Linked DNA regions of Homo sapiens: region 1 is linked to region 2. The links come from fine-mapping of genetic effects on gene expression. A gene starts in region 2. The other region holds a variant in brackets. All regions are shown on one strand. Distances are between the middles of the regions.

Region 1 (5,376 bases), 42 kb after region 2:
CAGAGACGTCAGCTCTTATTTGGAATGATATGACCTTACTTAACTTGTGTTACGTTACTTCATTAACACATTTATGCCTAGTGTTCCTTCACTGGAACGCTAGGCACGTGGGAGTTATTTATATCCTATCCTACTGCTCAAGGTCATCGCCAAGGTCTGATTTCCAAAATTCAAAAAATTGCAACCTCAGACATAAATGGAAACAGACTGGAAAAGTGCAGCAGTATGACAATGTCAGGAGGCTAGAGCATCACCCCAGGCAACAGATGACGCGGGGTGCACATACAAAGCCTCCTTAGTTACATACATGATCAGTGGCCTCTCTGAAATGGAATTTCCAAAGGTTAGAATACCTCATCACCAGATACAATAAGTAATAAGTGGTCTCAGCCGGGCACAGTGGTTCATGCCTATAATCCCAGCACTTTGGGAGGCCGAGGTGGGTGGATCGCCTGAGCTCAGGAGTTCCAGACCACCCTGGGCAACATGGTGAAACCCCGTCTCTACTAAAATACAAACAATTAGCTGGGCGTGGTGGCGCGTGCCTGTAGTCCCAGCTACGAGGGAGGCTGAGGCATAAGAATCGCTTGAGCCCCAGAGGCAGAGATTGCAGTCAGTCAAGATTGTACCACTGCACTCTAGCTTGGGCTGCAGAGTGAGACTCTGTCTCGAATAAATAAATAAATAAACAAATTAAGTAAGTAAATAAATAAGTAAGTAAGTGATCTCTTCAGGTAAGATCACTTTTTACTTATAAGACCTGAACAAAATAAAAGAGGGAATGTGAAACAAACTGTTTTCTCCACCATTTTAAAAATACAATATAATTCAGGCGTAGGTGTGTTTTGAAAAATAGCATATCTAAAGCCTTAGCTAAAACTAAACTTCTTACAAAGATCTTTAAAGCCAGAAGAGACCTTTTAGAATCATCTAGCTCAAAAGCATTTTCTCCTTTGAAATGATTTTAAAGTGTCTGCCTTGAAACAGCTTGTAGAGGGCGAGTCCCACTTCCAATCCCACAGCAGCTGTGAGCCAGAGCACAACACCCACGTCCCCTGCTCTGGTCAACGGTGGTCTCCATTTTCACTACAGAAATATCCCATCACTAAGGCATGAAAGATCTCTTTCGCTGAAGGGAGAGGGATGAATTTCTCTCAAAGAGCCATCCCATCTCAGACCAATGAAAATAATAATCCTGTGAATTTTGTTATGCCCGGTCTCACTGGGTAGAAAGCATTACTTTAAAAAATAACCAAGAGTCTATTGAGGTTAATGTAAATCCATCCCCCTCCCCCCAAACCCCACTTTCAGTTCTCAGTGGAATCACAATCAGTTATTGCGTAGCAGGGAATGGTCATTCTCAACCAATGTTCAGGTAAAGAAAATTCTCTTTATCCCACTAGTTTTAATGACTTTTATTCCAACTTTCATTCCTTATGGCACTGTGTTTATTTGAACATATTAGTAAGAAGCAAAGATTACTCTAATTCCAAGTAATTTTAACTATTTTAAGTTACCACATGCCTACTGTATTAAGAAGTTTATAGAAACTAAGACAGACACTGTCCCTGTGCTTAAACTTAAGCCAGGCTTTCCAGCTTCATTCACTTAGAGCACACCCCTTTAGTCTCCATATGTCAGTAGCAGCCACATCAGTTATTCAGCACTGACATCTGTCTCTGGGGCCAATAGTCTTGCTCTTCAAGGGGAAAACAGTCATTTCTCCCTTCAAAGTGATTTTAAACCATTTGCCTAAAAAGCAAACAAAAACTTTGTACATACCACTCCAATTTTTAGCCATCTTGAACATATTTGCAGCTCTGGTATACATTTCACAAGCCTCTTCTATTCTTGTGTTTCCTCTGAGAAAAAGTTAAAAATTAGATTTTTAACAACCATCCACATCTCTAATTCTCCCTCCCTCAAATGATTAACATTTAGTATATACTTGCTATGTGCCAGACAAGCATTACAGAATCTTAACCTCTATTTAAAGGAGATACTCTTACTATACCTGTTTTCCAGATGAGGAAACTGGGGTGTTAAGTGGTAAAGTAACTAGCCCGAGGTGACACAGAAAGGATAGCTCAGAATTAAGACTCAAACACAGGGCAGGGCATGATGGCTCATGCCTGTAATCCCAGAACTTTGGGAGGCCAAGGCGGGCGGATCACCTGAGGTCAGGTGTTCGAGACCAGCCTGGCCAACATGGTGAAACCCCATCCCTACTGAAAATACAAAAATTAGCTGGGTGTGGTGGCATGTGCCTGTAGTACCAGCTACTCAGGAGGCTGAGGTAGGAGAATTGCTTGAACCTGGGAGGCAGAGGTTGTAGTGAGCTGAGATCGTGCCATTGCACTCCAGCCTGGGCAACAAGAGCAAAACTATGTCTCAAAAAAAAAAAAGACTCAAACACAGATCTGGCTGACCCCAGAA[C/T]CAGAGGTGTTACAAACTGAAGATGTTATTCTGATTACATCTTTAATCAGAGTCCTTCCCATCTATAAAAGCTGGAAGTTTTATATCAGTCTGAGTAGTTAAAAGTACGTTTTTCAAAGGAGATTAAATTTTGAAGGATAAAGACATCTTTACCCTGTTATCTCCCAAGAGTTCAGCACTATGTTTATTCAGAAGCCACGTCTTATGAGAAAGTGGCACGACATTCTACAGCTGTATGATGTCAACTCTGGTAAGGGCAAGTCCTTCTCCAACCTGGAGGAAGCCTCAGGGTCCGGCCCAGTTTAGAAATGCATTTTGCAACACCCTGAGAAATGCATTTTACAACACCCTGAGAGAAGGGTACCTCCACTGTTGCTTGGACATATACAGTTCTGCAAAGTTCTTTACCAAGCAGCTGATTCCACTGAGGGACAGCTTTAAGCTACTTGGAAATTTCTTCTCACATAAAAGCCAAAATTATCCTCCGTAATCCTCCCAGAGTTAACTTTGCTTTTACTATGCTAAGGCCCCTCCATGAAAGACGTTTATCTATCTTGTCTATTTATAATCATAAAATAAACAGTGGAAAACTGAGATGCAGCAGACTCTGTACAGTATACATAACAAGGAACTCGGTGGGGTATGGACATAAGGACTCAGAGACAGGACAGGTCAAGGCTGACACTGGATGCTGGGCCTGGTATGAACACATGTACATGAAAGAGTGCACACACGTGTTAGGAACTCCATTAAACTCCAAGCTCCAGCAGAGGAGCTTGCAGCTCCCTGTCAACACAAGTCCTAGTGCAGAGCAGAGGCTGGGCATACAGCAAGGCTCAGGTGTGACTCAGACCTTAGGCAATAACTACTAACAGTATGGCCCTGGACCAGTTCTTTAACTCCTTCACACCTCAGTTTTGGCATGCGTAAACTGAAGATAATGTATACCTAGGAGTTATTATGAGGATCAAAAGAAATAATCCACATACAGCTGCCACTGCAGAGCTTCACCCAGAGCAGGTACTCAATCAGAATGGTTATCATATCTAGATCCATGTATGGAAGGCATAAAAACCTTTGGGAATATTACATTGTATGTCTCATGAGGAACATGTATCTAGAATAAATGCAAATCGAAACCACACATGTGATACCACATGGCTCCTGCTAGGATGGCTAGGATGGGCTACTGTCTGTCAAAAGACAAAAAATAACAAGAGTCAGGGAAGACGTGGAGAAACCTTATATATGTGGAGAAACCTTATATACGACTGGGAGGAATATAAAAGGGTGCAGCCACTTTGGAAAATGTTACCATATAACCCAGCAATTCCATTCCTAGGTACACACCCAAGAGAAATTAAAACACATCCCGGCGGGGCGAGGAGGCTCACGCCTGTAATCCCAGCACTTTGGGAGGCCGAGGCTGGAGGATCACCTGAGGTCAGGAGTTCAAGACCAGCCTGGACAACATGGCGAAACCCCATCTCCACTAAAAATACAAAAACAATTAGCCAGTGTGGTGGCACATGCCTGTAGTCCCAGCTACTTGAGGGACTGAGGTTACAGTAATCCGAGATCACACCACTGCACTCCAGCCCACCAGTCTAGGTGACAGAGCGAGACTTTGTCAAGAAGAAAAGAAAGAAAGAGAGAGAGACAGAGAAAGAGAGAGAGAGAGAAAGAAAGAAAGAGAATGAAAGAGAGAGATAAAGAAAGAGAGAAAACGCATATCCACACAAAAACTTGTATGCAACTGTTCACAGCAGCATTAATCATAATAGCTAAAAAGTGGCCAGGCACAGTGGCTCACGCCTGTAATCCCAGCGCTTTGGGAGGCTGAGGTGGGTGGATCACTTCAGGGCCAGGAGTTTGAGACCAGCCTGGCCAACTTGGTGAAACCTCCATCTCTAGTAAAAATACAAAAATTAGCTGGGCATGGTGGCGGGTGCCTGCAGTCCCAGCTACACAGGAGGCTGAGGCAGGAGAATCACTTGAACCTGGGAGGCGGAGGATGCACTGAGCCGAGATAGTGTCACTGCACTTCAGCCTGGGTGACACAGAGACTCCGTCTCAAAACAAAAAAAAAGCTAAGGAGTGGAAACAACCCAAAAGTCCATCAACCGATTAACAGATAAATAATATGTGGTATACACATACAATGGAATATTAATGCGCAATATGAGCAGTCACAGTGAGATTCCATTTATATGACAGGTCTACAGTAGGCAAATTTTTAGAGACAGAAAACAGGTTAGTGGTTGGTAGTGCTATGGTTTGAATGTTTTTGTCCCCTCCAAAACTAAATTAAAATTTAATCCCCAATGCAACAGTGTTGGGAGGTAGGGCCTACTGGGAGGTGTTTAGGTCATGAGCCCTCTGCTCTCATGAATGTATTAAGGCCACTAATAAAAGAGCTTGTGAAAGGGAGGTTCCATTTTCTCTGGTTCTCTTCTACCATGTGAAGACAAAGCAAGAAGGCCCTCACCAGATACCAGACGCTGGTGCCTTGATCTCAGACTTTCCAGCCCCCAAAAACTGTGAGAAATACATTTCTGTTCTTATACATTACCCAGGCTAAGGTTATTGTGTTACAGCAGCGCAAAGCAGGCAAAGACATCTAGAGGTGGGAGTGTTGGGGAAAAGCAGGGAGGTGAGGGAAAATGACAGCTAAATGGTACAGGGTTTCTTTCTGGGGTGATGAAGATGTTCTAAAACTGCTGTGGTTGCATAGCCCTGTGAATAGGCTAAAAACCTCTGAATTGTACATTTTAAATCAGTGAATTGTACGGTATGTGTATTAAATCTCAATAAAACCTCCTCCCCAACACACACAAAAAAAATCAAAAAAACAAACAAAAACCTTTGGGGACTATGTTACACAGTGAAAGATAGAATGGCAACAAGCCATACCAAAAATGAAGTGTCAGAATAAGCTAC
Region 2 (5,376 bases):
AAAAGCACATTGTTTGAATATTGCTTATCTAGAGGCCAGTGCTTGTTTGGCTGCCAGAGAATAAAAACCTTGTGGCAGTTAAGGCATAGTTTCTTCTTGAAGTGTAGAGGTGCATGACAACCCTTGCCAGGCATGGCCCTTCATTCTTTATCATTTAGTATTGCCACAAAGAGTCTGTGAGTCTTATGACCTCTATTTTTAAAGCTATTAAGACACTCAACTAAAGCAATCCTTTCAGTATTGAATGGATAAGCTAGCATTATGTTATGCTAGCTAACATAATCGGAGACGGAGTCTCATTCTATTGCCCAGGCTGGAGTGCAATGGCATGATCGAAGCTCACTGCAACCTCCATCTCCTGGGTTCAAGTGATTCTCCTGCCTCAGCCTCCTGAGCATCTGGGATTACAAGTGCCTGTCACCACTCCCGGCTAATTTGGTTTTGTTTTTTTGAGACAGAGTTTTCCTCTGTTGCCCAGGCTGGAATGCAGTGGTGCAATCTCCGCTCACTGCAACCTCTGCCTCCCATGTTCAAGCGATTCTCCTGCCTCAGTCTCCTGAATAGCTGGGATTAAAGGCATGTACCACCTCGCCCAGCTAATTTTTGTATTATTAGCAGGGAAAGGGTTTCACCATGTTGTCCAGGCTGGTCTTGAACTCCTGACCTCAGGTGATCCGCCCACTTCAGCCTCCCAAAGTGCTAGAATTACAGGTGTGAGCCACCGCACCTGGCCTAATTTTTGTATTTTAGCAGAGACGGGGTTTCACCATGTTGGCCAGGCTGGTCTTCAACTCCTGACCTCAAGTGATCGGCCCGCCTCGGCCTCCCAAAGTGCTGGGATTACAGGCGTGAGCCACCGTGCCTGACCACCTTTTTGTAATGCAAAACAAAATCATAAAACACGATTCTGGGCCTGCTGGAGCCATGGGTGAAAACTGCGTTCATTCCAATTTCTTCAAATCATGGAATGCAAATATAGAGAGTCGGCCTAAGAAAGATTTCTGTCACTCATTCATTCTTCAAATATTTATTGAGCACCTACTATGTGTGGGAAGCTGGCTCCTGTTCAGGAAATATAATTAAAAGTACAATCTCCCAACCCTCTTCAGAAAGGTAGTGGAGAAAGAAAACACTTTGTAATTGAATAAGCATTAAACTAGAATGTGATACCCATCACAGGCAATCCATTAAGAGACTGCAAAGACAGAACGAAATCTCACTCTTTTGTGCAGCCAAGCAATCTATTACACACATTTTCAAGATAAACAATAACTAGCTCTCAAGGGAACTTGGCAGCATTTTTCATCACACACAGTTCATCTAACCTGATATTTGGGATGATCCTCTGTGTTAGCCAATTGGCTTTATCTAGAGGAAAAAGAAACTTGTATCTTTATGATATGAGATAATTTTGTAAGTTGGAGCAAAGGGCCCACTGAAGTTAGGCTCCTACTCCCCCATTAAAACTGGGAGACAGGGGCATTAACTCCCTTGATACTTAAAGAGATGGCTCCTAGGTCCTAGAAAAAGACATATCTAGGTTATAAAGCGCACAAAAAGGCCTAACTAGTCTTCAAAAGGATTTATATATTTCAAAGAGAGGAAAAAGTACTTACACTAATTACCAATTTTCTAAAAGTAAATGTTCGAAGAAAAAGGGAGGGAAATCTCATATTTTCAACAGGAAGTAGTAAACCTTATTTTAAATTTGTATTTGTCCTGACAGTCCCCAAACATTACAAACTCAACGTGTCGGTAAGACAAGGCTGAGTTAACTGCTGGCCACAGTAAGGGACAGCATGACCTGGCAAAGCTTTACCAATGGCTGGGAGCAAAAGGCAAGGTCAGTTTATTGAGAACTGGAAGTCTGACTCAAGGAAGGTGTTTCAAAGCGGGCTTTAGTTAGTATTGAGCAAGAATTGGTGGAAACAGCAAGATTTCGAGGAGTCAGCGAATCTTAGGGAATCAATTGTGCTTTCCCCGAAGAGTGGATGGGTCTCTGGGGAAGTTCTGTAGTGAACAAAGCTTTCGCCCGAATGGGAACTCCTGGAAATAAAGCCCTGCAGTAAAGACGGCAGGGTGCGGTCCCGGCTCCTGGCGCGCCGAGCCCCCCAGCAGGGCGGGGGCACCGCGGAAGAAGCGCCCCAGAGGAGAGCGCCGCGCCGAGCCCCGCCTGGCGCCAGTTCTCCAGCGCCCGTGGAGGCATCTGCGCCCCTAGTAGCCAAGGTGAGTACCAGCTCCAAGCCCGGCTTTCCGCGAGGTCCCTCGCGTGGCCACCGTGCCCTAAGGGTGCGCTCGGCCTCGGGGACGTGAGCAGCTCTTAGTGGGAAGCCAGCTGCAGGCCCTGACCGCAGGCTGCTGGGGCCCGGAAGCGCTGGCGCCTTGCGGCCAGAAGCCCGGAATGGACGCGAAAGTGACCACGCGAATCTGACGCTCACGTGACTTTTCGCGACTGGCCCCGCCCCCCTGTGGCGTGCCGCAGCGCAGACGTCGCTGTCTCCTGCGCAGGCGCAGGCCTTGGCTCGCGGCGGGTGACGCAATGCGGCGGGTGACGCAATCCGGCGTCGCCAGTCAGTCGCGCGGCCAGATCAGGTAACTGCCCGAACCGCTCCGCCGCCCGACGTGTGGCTCAGCCCCTTCCTCAGCCCCGCCAGGGGCGGGGCCGGCCGCGGGAGGGGAGGGGCCTGCAGCGACCAATCGGCGGTGCCCGCGCAGGGTGCTACGCCACGCCCAGCCGGGCCGGCCGTTCCTACCGGCCTGGTCCAGCGGACAGCGGCTGCAGCGGGGGCGCCGGCTGGGAGGTGAGTGCGCGGCCCGTAGGCCTGGCTCCGGCCCCTCGCCGCCCGCCGCCGCCTCTTTGTCCGCGCGCCCCGGCTGCTCTGTGGACCTGCGCGTCTCGGGGATGCGGGAGCGGGGGCAGGGGGCGGCCCGAGGGCCTGATCCACGCGGCCCCGGATGCCCGCGTCGGGAGGCGGCGCGTCGGGCCGAGGAGGGGCTTCTCTGTGGCTGCAGTAGTTTGTTCTCTGGGTCGTCTTTGGAGTGGCCGAGCGGCGTCCGGGCGCTGGGGCGGCCAAGTGGCGCGGGAAGGGTGGGAGGTGCCGTGAGGGCGGCGAGGACAGCGGCGGATTTAAGCCCCACTGGAAACCCCGGCCCTTGTGGCCGTGGACTGGGCTGCGGGTAGCAGCGTCTCCTGGAAGGGCTCTGGCCCCGTGAGCCTCGGGGATTCAGGGGCCGCCGACGTTGGTGCAGATGCCGGGCGCACTGGGAGGCGGCCGGAATGCCAATGAGATTCGGCGGATACGCAGCTGTCACCGGCCGCAGACTGCCCTGTCGCCACCTCCAGTGCCTGCACTCCAGTAGCCAAGCAACATAGGAAATCGCGCTCAGAACCCACTTTGTTGATTGAGAAATCAGGTCTCCTCGAGGGCCCTGTTGGCAGAGGTCTGGGGAAGTCAGGGCATCAGGCTGAGAGAGCCCTCTGCAGTCTTGTTTCCCCAGGCTGGGGCTGGGACCACTGAAACCCCAGTGGCTCTATAAGAGCCCCACTCTTATAGATCCCTTCCTTAGGCTTTGTCAGTGTTCTCACAGTTTTACTGGGGCGTCTCCTTCAGGCGACATTGATCAAGCCTCATAGGTACCTGTTTACAGCGGAACTCCCAGAGGGCAGTCTTTTCCATGTTTGAGGGACTGCTAGTTGTGGGGAGCGGTCTCATTGATGAGACTGGAGAAGGGGAGAGGGGTGGGACTAGTTTATCAGGGAAGATGATGACAACTTTTTTTCTAGACACGTTGAATCCGAGGTGACATCTGTGGTCTGGCCGAAGGAGGCTAGAAGGAAGGCATGTGCTTTGGATGGATGGAAACAGGAATCAAAGAGGAAGGTAGATTCAGGAGCTGAAGGGCAGGGAGAAAACACATTCAGGGAGTTTGTGGCAAAGCAGCAGAAATGACGATGGGGTGACGGTATCTGGAGGCCTTAGGTGGGGTTGGTGAAATTTGCATGCCCGCTGCAGTGGAAAGATTTAGGGGCTAAAGATAGCCCTTTGCCTTTGGCAAGGCTGAGGGGAAGAGTGTGTTGAGTAGTCTGAGTTGAATCCGGGCACCAGGCCCTGGCTCATGTCCCAACCAGCCATTGACTGTTACCTTGATAGGTCCTCATCTATGAAATGGGGATCACTGTAGCACCTTGGCCTATGTGTGGGAAACCAATAAACTAGCCAACAAGTTTCAGGCTCATGGAACCCTGGTAACAGCCGGTCAGCCTTCTTCAGAGGAGGAAATGGGTTCAGAGAAGTTGCTTGCTCAAAGTAGCACAGCTTGTAAAAGCTGTGGAACTTAACATTATTTCAGTAGAGTAACAATAATTCAAATTCTGAGGAGTTTAGGATGTTGGGAATGGGCGATGAATTGTGAACTACTTTTCCAAGAAGTTTTCCTCATGGAAAGTAGTTATTTAGTTGGTTCTTTTCAAAGGCAGAAATGATTCCCTGAGGTTTTGGATTTGCTCCCAGATGGTGGTGGCTATGTGTTTTAATTATCTGGTTTCCTGATCAGAGAACTAGACATTATTGTTGCCATGAATTCTTTTACAGTTTTGGGGACTATGTAAGCAAATTAGACAGTGACCTTGGTGAGCAAATTACTGTGTTAATGTATTTCACTAATCACAACTTCCATCATTTGTTTATCACTGGAGGAAACCTTAGAATACACTATTTTTCATGCCAATTTATTACCTTAGGAAAATGCATGAGGAACCTCACTTTAGAAAACTGCTAAGAAGTAAAATGTCATTCGAATCTTTACCTGAGTAAAGCTAGGTTGTTAATGAGTCTATATCCTCTCAAGTACTGAAGGAATCCTCATAAATTTTAGTCCTTTTGCATCAGTGGTTGCTCATGCATAATTCTTGTTTCTTTTTCAAAGCTGTTTTTGGAAGGAAGAAAGATGGAAAGCGGTGCAGTTCTGCTGGAATCCAAATCCTCCCCATTTAACCTACTGCATGAGATGCATGAGCTTCGCCTCCTGGGTCACCTGTGTGACGTGACAGTCAGCGTGGAGTATCAGGGTGTCCGCAAAGACTTCATGGCCCACAAGGCAGTGCTGGCTGCCACCAGCAAGTTTTTTAAGGAAGTGTTCCTTAATGAGAAGAGTGTGGATGGTACTAGGACTAATGTCTACTTAAATGAAGTGCAGGTTGCTGACTTTGCTTCATTTCTTGAGTTTGTCTACACTGCAAAGGTACAGGTGGAAGAAGATCGGGTGCAGCGAATGCTGGAAGTGGCTGAAAAGCTGAAATGTTTGGATTTATCAGAAACTTGTTTTCAATTAAAGAAACAGATGTTAGAGTCAGTACTTTTGGAGTTGCAAAATTTC

The links. PIP is the estimated chance that this variant, and not a neighbour inherited with it, causes the effect. A credible set is the group of variants that fine-mapping cannot tell apart.
Region 1: its variant is the best candidate, but not a certain one, in a credible set for the expression of GZF1 in whole blood (INTERVAL, PIP 0.50).

The regions. Positions count from the first base shown.
Region 1 is chr20:23,401,211-23,406,586 of GRCh38, forward strand. NAPB (NSF attachment protein beta) reads right to left here. Exons shown (of 11, transcript NM_022080.3): 2 at 1,783-1,862. Among named protein-coding and RNA genes, the nearest start is that of NAPB, 18 kb to the right of the region's middle. The variant C/T (reference allele first, on the strand shown) is at 2,437.
Region 2 is chr20:23,359,437-23,364,812 of GRCh38, forward strand. GZF1 (GDNF inducible zinc finger protein 1) reads left to right here and starts at 2,746. Exons shown (of 6, transcript NM_022482.5): 1 at 2,746-2,801; 2 at 4,927-5,376. The coding sequence starts at 4,948. RefSeq lists silencers at 2,032-2,121, 2,542-3,031 and enhancers at 2,212-2,471, 4,286-4,345.